Linked DNA regions of Homo sapiens: region 2 is linked to region 1. Evidence: fine-mapped expression QTL. A gene starts in region 1. The other region holds a variant in brackets. All regions are shown on one strand. Distances are between the middles of the regions. Region 1 holds the start of WDR86 (WD repeat domain 86). Region 2 holds the start of LOC124901780.

The links. PIP is the estimated chance that this variant, and not a neighbour inherited with it, causes the effect.
Region 2: its variant is the best candidate, but not a certain one, in a credible set for the expression of WDR86 in whole blood (INTERVAL, PIP 0.77).

The regions. Positions count from the first base shown.
Region 1 is chr7:151,407,260-151,412,623 of GRCh38, reverse strand. WDR86 (WD repeat domain 86) reads left to right here and starts at 2,586. Exons shown (of 6, transcript NM_198285.3): 1 at 2,586-3,197. The coding sequence starts at 3,035. WDR86-AS1 (WDR86 antisense RNA 1) reads right to left here and starts at 3,463. Exons shown (of 6, transcript NR_109857.1): 1 at 3,242-3,463; 2 at 1,312-1,396; 3 at 832-954; 4 at 554-657. RefSeq lists an enhancer at 1,388-2,020.
Region 2 is chr7:151,433,614-151,438,977 of GRCh38, reverse strand. CRYGN (crystallin gamma N) reads left to right here. Exons shown (of 4, transcript NM_144727.3): 2 at 734-982; 3 at 2,653-2,798. LOC124901780 reads left to right here and starts at 2,817. Exons shown (of 1, transcript XM_047421163.1): 1 at 2,817-5,364. It overlaps MIR3907 (microRNA 3907), which reads left to right and starts at 5,339; the gene lies at 5,339-5,364. RefSeq lists enhancers at 1-58, 420-1,269. The variant C/G (reference allele first, on the strand shown) is at 2,960.

The DNA.
Region 1 (5,364 bases):
TGCAGGTTGTGCCAGAAGGGAAAAAGCAATTCTGACAAAGCTCTGGCTATGACGTTCCCTGTGGGCGCCCCTCAAGGTGCCTCCCTCTGTCACCACCTACACACACACACACACACACAACTCAGGAATATCCAGCTTTCACCATGCTTCTCAGAGAGGCCCCAGAGGGTCACTCTTTCCAGCAGGGTAAATTGTGGCAGTCCCTGTGGCACGGGGAATGAGCACTCCCTGGCACAAAATGCACCCGCCCCCCAACCCTTCACTTGTTAAACACTGCCCATTTCTTGCTTCTTAAAGCTTAACCATTTCCTCCTACACCCTACCAGGTTCCCTTCCCAAGGTGCCTTCCATTTATAAAGTGATTAGGTCCAGGAGGGCCTGGGCACCACGGGACTCCAGGCCCTCTTGGAGGCTCCAGAAGAGTTAAAGGTGTGAAAGGGGAAGGGAGCCCAGGTTCTGCTGGGGACCCAGCCTGACTCCTGGGTCTCTATAGCTTTGCTATCTTAAGGTGGAGGTTGGGGGAGACCCCAGTTTCAGGGGAATTAGGGGAGACCTCAGTTCCAGGGGAATTCGGTGCTGTTTTCCAATCTACCCAGCTTCTTGTACTCCTGTTAGATCTGGGGGCAATTTCCCAGAGGAGAGTCTGTAATCTACGACCTGCAAGAGAAAAGGGAAGACAGGCTGGCTGAGGACATCTGCACCCACAGCTCTACAGTCCAGACTCAACCCCCAGAGATGGCTGGCTCATCCCCACCAGGGGGCCACTTTGTGCCAAACCGGAGAAGGAGGGGTGGGGGAGGTGGAGAAGCCAAGAACAAAAAATCTATCAACCTGGAAAGAGGAAGTAGGTAAGGTCAGCGGTGTGTGGACTGCAGGCTCCCAAGATGATGGCGCTGGCGCTTCTGAACGCTCTGCCTGCTGGGAGCTGAGCATGGGGCTGATGGCTTGTGTTGGCTGCAGAGGAGAGGAACCAGAGTGCATGGGTGCCACCTTGCTCAGGAATCCTGGGTGACCTCCTTGAAAGTTAAGCTTTTCTCCTGGTGGTTCTTTCCTCTGGCCCACGACCAGGCAAGCTCGCCCAACCTACGATCTGTCCCCAGCTCCCAAACTGCTTTCAAACCCCTCCCCTCTTAGTTTCCAAAAGAGTCGATGCCTGGTTCTCCTTGGCCCCTCTGCCCAGAAAGTTTGGGTTTCCTCTGGCACTTCTCCGGATAAACCCTCCCAGCCTCCATGGTCCTCACATTCACCTTCCCCAAGGGCTGCAGCCGCAGGGCCTGCCCAAGATCCCCACTATACCGAGTCTGTCCTCACCTGGAGGCCACACCGCAGTTTCACACCTGGATGTGCAATGGGCCCCCTGAGGTTCACCGGTTCCTAAGAGGAACTGGTGATCAGCCTGTAGGGGACAAAACAGTCTACCCAGCCTCTCAGCACAAGACAGGCTCCCCGGCCTCTCCCGCCTCGCAGGCATCCAAATGCTGAAGCCTCCACCTCCTGAAAACGTCTCTCCTTTCGGCCTCCCTCTCTCCGGCTGGATGACCCCAAATCTCGTCCTAACGCTCCTCCACTGCCCCTCTCTCCACCACCTGCTAAGGAAGGGCCACGCTCCTTAAGCTGAGGCGCCAGCTGCTTTACAAGTTTTGAGGGAAAAGAACGGATTTCTCTGGTTAGGCCACTCTGGGTATAAACGACCCAACGGCCTGGGACACCCCACGATGGGGTTTTCTTTTGGAGTCTGGATAGAGCAGAGCGTGCAGTACTGGTCGTCCCATTGCGGGCTAGCTCGCCAAAGACGCCCCTTCCTTGCCCTTCTCCCTAGGCTCCTGAGAGAGCCCTGGAGCGTTCTGGAAATCCTGCTACCTTTAGGACCTGGGGGATCCGAGTAGGGGGGTCACCTTCCCCGTCCCCAGCGAAGTCGGCGCCGGAACTGCCCTAATGGAAACCAGCCGCCGGGCGCTCCGGGAGGGCTCAGGCCGACCCCGGGGTCCATTAGAGGCGCCCCAGGCCGAGGGAGCCCGCGGCGGCTGGAAGGTGAACTTGACATCCCGGCTCCACCGACCCCGCAGCGGCTCGCACCTCATCCCCACTCCGGCCAGACCAAAGTAGAATCCTGGGTGTGCGCGTGATTTCCCAGGGAGGGCGGACTCGGGGCTTTCCCTGTCGCACCCTCCATTGGGGGACCGCCCCCAAGTCCCCGAGAGCCCCTCGGGCAGAGTCCTTAGGGCTCAGAGCATGGGAGGACCTGGCTTGCCTGGTGGAGGCGAGTAGCCGAGGGGTCGGTGGAGCTGCGCCCCAAATGAGTTCCCGGCGCGCGATTCTCCCCGACCCCGACCCTTTGTCCGCCTCCCCCTCCCTCGTCCCGGCCCTTGGCTCAGGGGACCCAGGCGGCGGCGGCGGAGGTGGCAGAGGCCAGAGCCCAGAGGCGCAGCCCGGGCAGCTAGGAGGGTCGCACGTGGAGCCGTCCCCCGGACCCGCACAGCGACGAAGGGGGGAGGCTGCAGGCGCGCGGGGTGGGGGCTGGGGCGCAGCCCGAGAAGTGGGAGGGGATCGGGTGAGGGGTGGTCTCTGAGGAGGAGCCAGGCTGGACCGTATTGTTCCGCGCTCGGCCGGGGAGGGCGCGGGGCGCTCGGCTTCCCGTGTTCCTCTCCCCGCCCCAGCCCCGTGGGCGCGAGAGGAGGCGGGGGGCTCCTTGTGCACCAGAGACGCAGCTGCCTTGTTCGCCCGGTGGGGTGTGGATCCTCCGAGCGGTGCTGGGAAGGGGGTTCTCTCTGCCCGCGCGCCCAGGACTCTACCCAGGGCGGAGGTCCCGAGTGGGCCGCCCCCCGCAGCGCCCTGGGTTCGCGGGCCCAGAGGCTGGAGGCAGCGGGGAGCTAGGGTCCTTCACCCTCCCCTCGCCGCGTGCCTCCGCAGGAGTCGGGCTCCCCGTTCCCCGCGATGGCCGCGGGCCGCAGTCGTACGGAGCCGCCGCGCGGACCCCGGGGCGCCCCTCCCTAGCGGGGCGCAGCTCCTTCTTGTTCCCCGCCCTGCCAGCGGGATGGGGGGCGGCGGGTCGGCCCTGAGGGTCTGCGCCGACCACCGCGGGGGCATCAACTGGCTGAGCCTGAGCCCCGACGGGCAGCGCCTGCTGACGGGCAGCGAGGACGGCACGGCCCGGCTCTGGAGCACCGCGGACGGCCAGTGCTGCGCGCTCCTGCAAGGTAGACCCTCCCACTCCCTCCCTGACCTCTTCGCCGCAGCTCACCGGCCCCAGACCGCGGACCCCAGCTCCTGCGCCCGCAGACCCCTTTCTAGAAGTCCAGCCCCCGCTCATCCCGGCACACTAGCGGAAGAGCGCTTGTCTGGGCCCAGCATCTGGCTGTTGAGCGCACGGCAGGGCAGGGTGAGGTCTGGGGGTGGGGTGCGGGTGCAGAGCAGGGTGCGGCCGGGATCGGGTGGGTGGGTCGAGGGGCGTCCGCTACAAAGGCGAAGATCATTTGTCAACCAGCGGCAGGAAATCTCCCTTGACAACAATGTTAACAAACAAAAAGTTGCACCTATACTCCTTCTAAGCAAACCTTCCCTTGTCTCTAGGTGCCTTGTGGCCTCTTTGTGGCCAATTGTGCTCTTCTGCTGGCATTTCCTGTTGACGACTCTCACAGCAACAGTAGACGCTTGTTAAGGGCCAGCGGTGCGGAGAAGTGTGCCGTCGTCACACTATGTTACCCCACATACAGACGTGGAAACAGGCTGGGAGTTAAGTAATTCGCCCAGGTCGCACAGCCAGTGAGGGGTAGATGGCAGTCTGAGCCCTCTCATTGCTGTAAACCCTGCCTGCATGCCTGTTGGTTTCTATTTGTGCCCTGTACTCACTCAGGAGGTCAGTGTGCCTCGGGTGCACCTTCCCCTGGGCCTGTCCCATGCACTGTGAGGTCCCTTTCAGCTCTGGCCCTCCTACTGCCCAGGTAGCACACGTAGTCCCCTGGATGAGCCGCGAGGCTTTCTGCTGTGGGTAGTTCTTTATCACCGCGGGCTTTTCCACCATCATCAGTGAACTCTCTGTGGCCTCGCCCAGGCCTTCCAACTTAGGTAGGATATTAGCCCCAATATTGGCTAATCCTGATACTGCTGGTTTTAAATAAGAACAGTTGACCAGGCTCGGTGGCTCACACTTGTAATCCCAACACTTTGGGAGGCCAAGGTGGGTGGATCACCAGAGGTCAGGAGTTTGAGACCAGCCTGGCCAACATGATGAAACCCTGTGTCTAATAAAAATACAAAAAATTAGCTGGGCGTGGTGGCGGGCGCCTGTAATTCCAACTACTCGGGAGGCTGAGGCAGGAGAATCACTTGAACCCAGGAGGCAGAGGTTGCAGTGAGCCAAGATCGTGCCACTGCACTCCAGCCTGGGTGACAGAGCCAGACTCTGTCTAAAAAAAAAAAAAAAAGAAAAGAAAAGAAAAAAATATTACATAGTTAGGGCAGATATTTCAAACCCAACAGGGATGACTTTTGGATTACCGGTTACTTGGGAGTTGGTGTGGATAATGGAGAGGTGGCCACAAACTAACACACATCCCCCCCAAACAGCCACACACACTTATAGGCATTCAACCAGGAATGGAAAATATGAGGTCTTTTAGAAATGTTAAGTCCAGTTGGTATTGCTCCCAAACATAAGACTGTCTTGGGGGTAGAGGGGTGGGTGGTGTTTCAGAAATGCAGATCCCCAGGCCTGGGCTCCAGTGATGCAGTCCTCCATGAATAGGGCTGTAGAACTGGCATTTCTTCTTGTTGTTGTTTTTTGAGATGGAGTTTCGCTCTTGTTGCCCAGGCTGGAGTGCAGTGGCACGATCTTGGCTCACTGCAACCTCCGCCTCCCGGGTTCAAGCGATTCTCCTGCCTTGGCCTCCTGAATAGCTGGGATTACAGGTGCTCGCCACCACGCCCAGCTAATTTTTTTGTATTTTTATTAGACGTGGGGCTTCATCATGTTGGCCAGGCTGGTCTTGAACTCCCGACCTCAGGTGATCCACCCGCCTTGGCCTCCCGAAGTGCTGAGATTACAAGTGTGAGCCACTGCACCCGGCCTAGAATTGGCATTTCTAACAAGCTTTTGGGTGGGTCTTATGCACAGCTGGCCCCGGGAGCCCCTGGGCTGGGGACGGGTTGTGGGAGCCCAGCTTAGCCCACAATTAGGTGGGGTTTCTCCCCAGTGAGGCCCCAGGCTTTGCCAGGCTGCCGGTAGCCTGGTGGGCACTTGGCTTTGCCCCCACGGCAGCTCTGGAGCCTCACCAAGCCTCCAGGGCCCACCCTCCTGCCCAGCTCTGTGTCTGGCACCTGTGCCTCCTTCCTTCACACCCACTTTGGTGACCCTCACGGCTGCTT
Region 2 (5,364 bases), 26 kb before region 1:
CTGGCGGGTTGTTATTGCTTCACTTTGTTTTGTTTCGGGACAAGGACAACCTGTGAGTGCCACGTAGCTATAAGACACGATGTCTGAACTCCCAGCAGGGTGATGGAGCTCCAGATCTGATACATGCCTGCTACCCAAAGGAGTGACCTACAAAACACAGAGAGACAGGGTGGCACTTATAAGCCCTCTTTTGCGAACATTAATCCCGAGCCAGGCCCTGACGCGGCTTCGGCCCATTCAGCCTCTCCAGTGAAGGAGGCCCAATCCCAGGAACCCGAATTTCTGCAAAATATATGCTGGGTTACCATGAGAGGGTTGTGGGTGAAATTTCTTCTTTTGAAAACACCTCCTTTAATGTTATTATCGGCTTTATGTTTTAATAATTAAAAAATGAGTTAAAAATGCAGTGGAAGTTGAAAACAGCCCATTTTGAAATGGGCACCTAGACAAAGGGGAAACCCCTGTCCCCAAATCGCTGCTGAAATTTGTCTGCCCCACTGTGAGCTCCTAAGGGTGGGGAGGAACAGTAGCTGTGTATGGCATCAGCCTGCCAGCTGTTCGTTCTTTTGCCCAATTGGCAAATAGTGTTGGGCACCTACTGTGTGCAGCAGGTCTGGGCTTTTGGGGGCCTGGGAGTAGGGGTTCCATCCAGGGTGTTGGGACCCAGACGCCAGCCTCCAACGCTGACGGAGAGAAGCCCCTGACCCTGAGCTCTGTAACCTGCCCTTTCTAGATCACTCTCTATGAAGGCAAGCACTTCACAGGGCAGAAGCTGGAGGTCTTCGGGGACTGTGACAACTTCCAGGACCGGGGCTTTATGAACCGAGTGAACTCCATCCACGTGGAGAGCGGAGCCTGGGTCTGCTTCAATCACCCCGACTTCCGGGGCCAGCAGTTCATCTTGGAGCACGGCGACTACCCCGACTTCTTCCGCTGGAACAGCCACAGTGACCACATGGGCTCCTGTCGGCCTGTAGGAATGGTGAGTGGGCCCGTCCACCGAAGGCTGAGTCTTCCTGCTGGAGGGACCGAGGGTCAGCCCTGGCAGACAGTGGCAAGGAATCGGGGAGCGTGGTCCTCCCGGCTTTAAAGTCTGTAAGACTGAAGGAGCTATACCCAGAGCCACCTGCTGGCATGAGGTGAGTAGGTGGGGGGCCAAGTTGCTATGAACTGAGTGGGAGTGGCCCTGAGTTTTCATACAGGTATCAATAAACCACTTTAAGTTTCGGAGCCAAAAATCTAGCTGCATTTTCCATTTAAAATGCTGTTGAAATCATCCAAATTTAGATTTCCAGCCAGATAGGGGACACTCCGCCAATGGGAGGCTGATTTGGGCCTAGTGTGGCCACTAGTACAGGTGGTCTTGTGGCACATTCTGGAGCCTTCCATGTCTTGGAATGGCTGATGGAGGAAGCTGAAGAATCACCCGCCTGTCAGGGGAAAATTGGGGGGCAGGTCCCTTGGAATTACACAGGTAGCTGCCGCCCAAGAGGTGTGTGCAGGGAGGGCAGACGAGGGGCATGGCTCCCCGGTGGCGAAAGACTGTTTCGGTCCAGCTGCTCCTAGGGTGGGATTTAAGCAAGGCCGTTCCCCCAGGTCATGGGTACTCACTGACCTGCTGTGAGCTCTGGAGCTTCAGGTGGGGAGTGGCGGACTCCTGAGCCTGGGGGCGTGCATCTCTCATCACAGAGCGTCTCGCTTATGTCTGCTGAGGACCCTCCCCCGACGCCTGGGCTGGGTGGTTCTGGTGAACATCTGAGGAACCCCAGTAAAGGGGCCTTTGTGTGGTGCCCCCTCTCTTTTCTGTATCAGTTGCAAAACCAGCTGGGCTTTGGCATCTCAAATTGTAAGAATGCTTCCTTAGTATTTCTTCCAGGCTGTGGTCCATTTGGAAAAAAGAAATTTAAATGGTTGGCCCTGGACCCTGCATAATGCTATTTATATGAAAAACATCCTTGGTATCTTGCGAACTGCTGTTCTCCTAAGAGCTAGCCTGGGGCCAGCTGTGACGCAGACCAGGCCCTGCCGGCTTCTGAGCCAGGCAGGGGCTGGCCCTCCTCTGTCTTTTGGAAATGCGGGAATCATATAGGGAGATGTGCTGAGCCTAGGGGACAATGATGTCAAGGCCAGCAGGGGTTTCAGCACATGAGATCTGGTATTTGTTTTAGATTTTTGGCTTTATGTTTTACTAAAAGGTTCTATTACAGTTTTAAAATGTTATCATTTGAAGGCTTGCCCATGGGCTGTGGCCCAGGGGTGGGGAAGTCAGAACCCGGAGTGTGTGGCTGTGATCAGGGCCGGAGTCCCCCACGCTGAGCACCCAGAGGGAGCCCCGTGACCCCAGCCCTGGTCTGAGTGTGACCGCTGGCCTCTGGTCAGTTTGGCCCTCTTTGGACCTCAGATTTTCTAGTTGTAGAAAGAGGAGCTTGGACCAGCTCAGTGGCTTGGAACATTTTCAGAGTAATAGAACCCTTTCTTCCAACCACATCTCATGTGGAAGAACAAACAGAAGTGTGGGGTTGAAGTGTGTGGGGTGGGGGTGCCCAGTGCCTTGGGTACCTCCTAATTCCTTCCTGCATGGGGCTTCTGTTTCTGGGAGAGGGGAATTCACAGCAACCTCCTTCTTTCCTTCTTTTTTGCTTGGTCTTGGAGCACGGAGAACATTTCCGCCTAGAAATCTTCGAGGGTTGCAACTTCACGGGCCAGTGCCTGGAGTTCCTGGAGGACAGCCCCTTCCTCCAGAGCAGGGGCTGGGTCAAGAACTGTGTGAACACCATCAAGGTGTACGGGGACGGAGCGTGAGTACAGGCCACGTGGCCGCACCCCGAGGCCCGGCTAGGCCCTTCAGCACCAGGCGTGGGAGGCTGCCCGCCACACAGGGGTGGTGGGTGGGGTGGGAATGAGACCTCCAGCAGTGGGCAGCGTGTCCCTGGCCCCACAGGCCCTCTCCTTTCCTCAG[C/G]TGCCTCACCTGCCCCAGTCAAGCAGCGGGGAGCTTCCCCTGTGGCCCAGAAGGGCCTCAGAGAGGGACTCTGGGCCCCAGAGGCACCCTGAGACCTTCCCTCTAGGGCCTCAGTCCAGGAGCAGAGGTAGGAGAGTACCTTGAAAGTTGCACGGTTCTCTGCGATTGATCTGATACAAGGGGCCGCCTTTGGTTTTCTTGAACCGGGGGACACCTGCTTACCAAGGGGTCCTCCAGGGCCTTATGGGCTGGAAAAGCCACAGTGGGCTCACTTGCTCTGAGAAGGGTGGACCAGCCCACCCTGCCCCCGCGCCTACCCCGCAGAGCTGACCCCTGAACCGGGCCTCTCTGCAAACCCCCACCACCCTGGCCTCTGGGAGGAGATGGACTTCGGGGTGGCTCACTCCTGGACAGAAAGTAGCTGGGGGAATTTTGCCCAGGCCCAGATGGGTTTGTCTGCCCCACACTTGGGTTTCCTCCTGGTCAACCAAGGGCAGCCTGTGTGCCCCCTCCTGCCCTCCCGCACACTCCCCTTTTGCAACTATCCTCTGAGCACCTTCAAGTTGGCCATGTATTTTCATTGTCCAGCCCACACCTCTAGGTCAGGTAGATATTATCGCCCCCGTTCTACAAAGGGCAAGCTGAGACTCAGAAGGCTGACTGCCCGGCCGCCCCGTGGGAGTGGCACAGCTGAGACTGCAGCCAAGCCTGTGTCTGTCCCTGTTCCAGAGCTAGCCGCTTTCCCAGGCCTCAGTCCCCTCCCCTCAGGCCAAGAGCCCCTCACACAGGTTCCAGCTGGCTGTGCATGGTTCTGGCGCCTATCGAAGCAATTGAGGAACAATTTGCCGTCTATACTACAGAGGTTCAAGGCCAGGGAGCTTCGGAGGGGATGCAGGGGGCAGAGGGACTGCAGGGAGACAGAGACTGGGCCGAGGCAGAGCTGGGCACAGGTGGTACCCCATGTCCATGGGCTCCAACCGCACAGCGAAAATATCCCCCCACAATTGTGTCTATGCTGAATATGTACATTATTCCCTGAAAGATACTGTACAACTATTTACATAGCGTTTATGTTGGATTAGGTATCATAAGTAATCTGGAGATGATTTCGAGTCCAGTAAGTCCTCACTTAACATTGTGGATAGGTTCTTGGAAACTGTGACTTTAAGTGAAACAATGTATGGCAGGTCCTCAAATATGTCATCTTGTTCAATGTGGATTCATTATAAAATTGATGAGGGGAGAAATGGCTTTGTTATATATCATGTGCTTAAAGCCACGGTTCCCAAGAACTTACTGACGGTGTTAAGTGAGGACTTACTATATATGGGAGGATACACATGGGTTATATGCAAATACAGTGCCATTTTATATCAGGAACTTGAGCATCCTCGGATTTTGATATCCAAGGGAGGTCCTGGAACCAGTTCCCAGGGATAGGGAGGGACTGTGTACATCCCACCTTTCCCCGGTGGCCTGATGTTGGCCCCCTTCCTGCTGTTTCTGTCACTCTAGCTGGCTCCAGGATTCCGTTTTACGAAATTGCATTTTGCCCTAAATTGGTGGCACCTGGAGCCCAGGGGTGGCATTCCAAAACAAGAATTTGCCCTGGAAAACTTGCTGGCTAAATTGTGTCTTGTAAGGCCCAAGTCATGCCTTTGCGTGGAGGATGTCCTGAGGCCCTAGACACAATCCCCCCGGCCCACCCCCAACGCTCAGGGGCTTGTTGAGAACGAAGGTGGGGAAGGTGGAGGCTAACATTTCTCTGACTGAGGGGCACACAATCCCCACTGTCCCTGAGAGGAGCCAGCCATCGGGACCCCAGGTGGGGGACCCAGGAGCTCAGCCTTTGCCGCCTAAGACTCTTACTCTTACACAAATGTAAGCCCTTGTCAAGGAGGTAACGCCCCCAGGTCCCCTCGATCCGGAGGGGACACTGCTAGGAGGCCTTTCCTGGGGTCGGGGGAGTGGGCAAGGCAGGGTCCCTCCACCACCTCCCACTGCCAAGACTCCTTCCCTCTGGGTCCCACATCAGCCCAGGCATGACCCATCCCCTCAGACCCGTGTCCTGGTGGGCTCTCGGAGGGAAATGCACTGGCGTTCTGCCTCCACCTACCCTCACCTGGGGAAGGGCACGGTGCTGATGTGGGCAGGACAGGCCCCTGCCCTTTCCTCTGTCTGCCTCCTCCCAGTAGCCACAGCCAGGACAGGGGACAGCAGGATGGGTGGTTCCCCGCCCCCTCCTTTTGGGGGTGTCCATGTGAGAACCCTCATGTGGCCCAGGACATGGCTTGGGGCATTTCTTGCCCACCACAGGGTAGGAAAGGACCAGCTGACTCTCTGAGGTGCCTCTGAGGCCCCAGCTGTGGCACAGGTGTGGGGTTGGAAAGCTGTAGGTGTGGAGG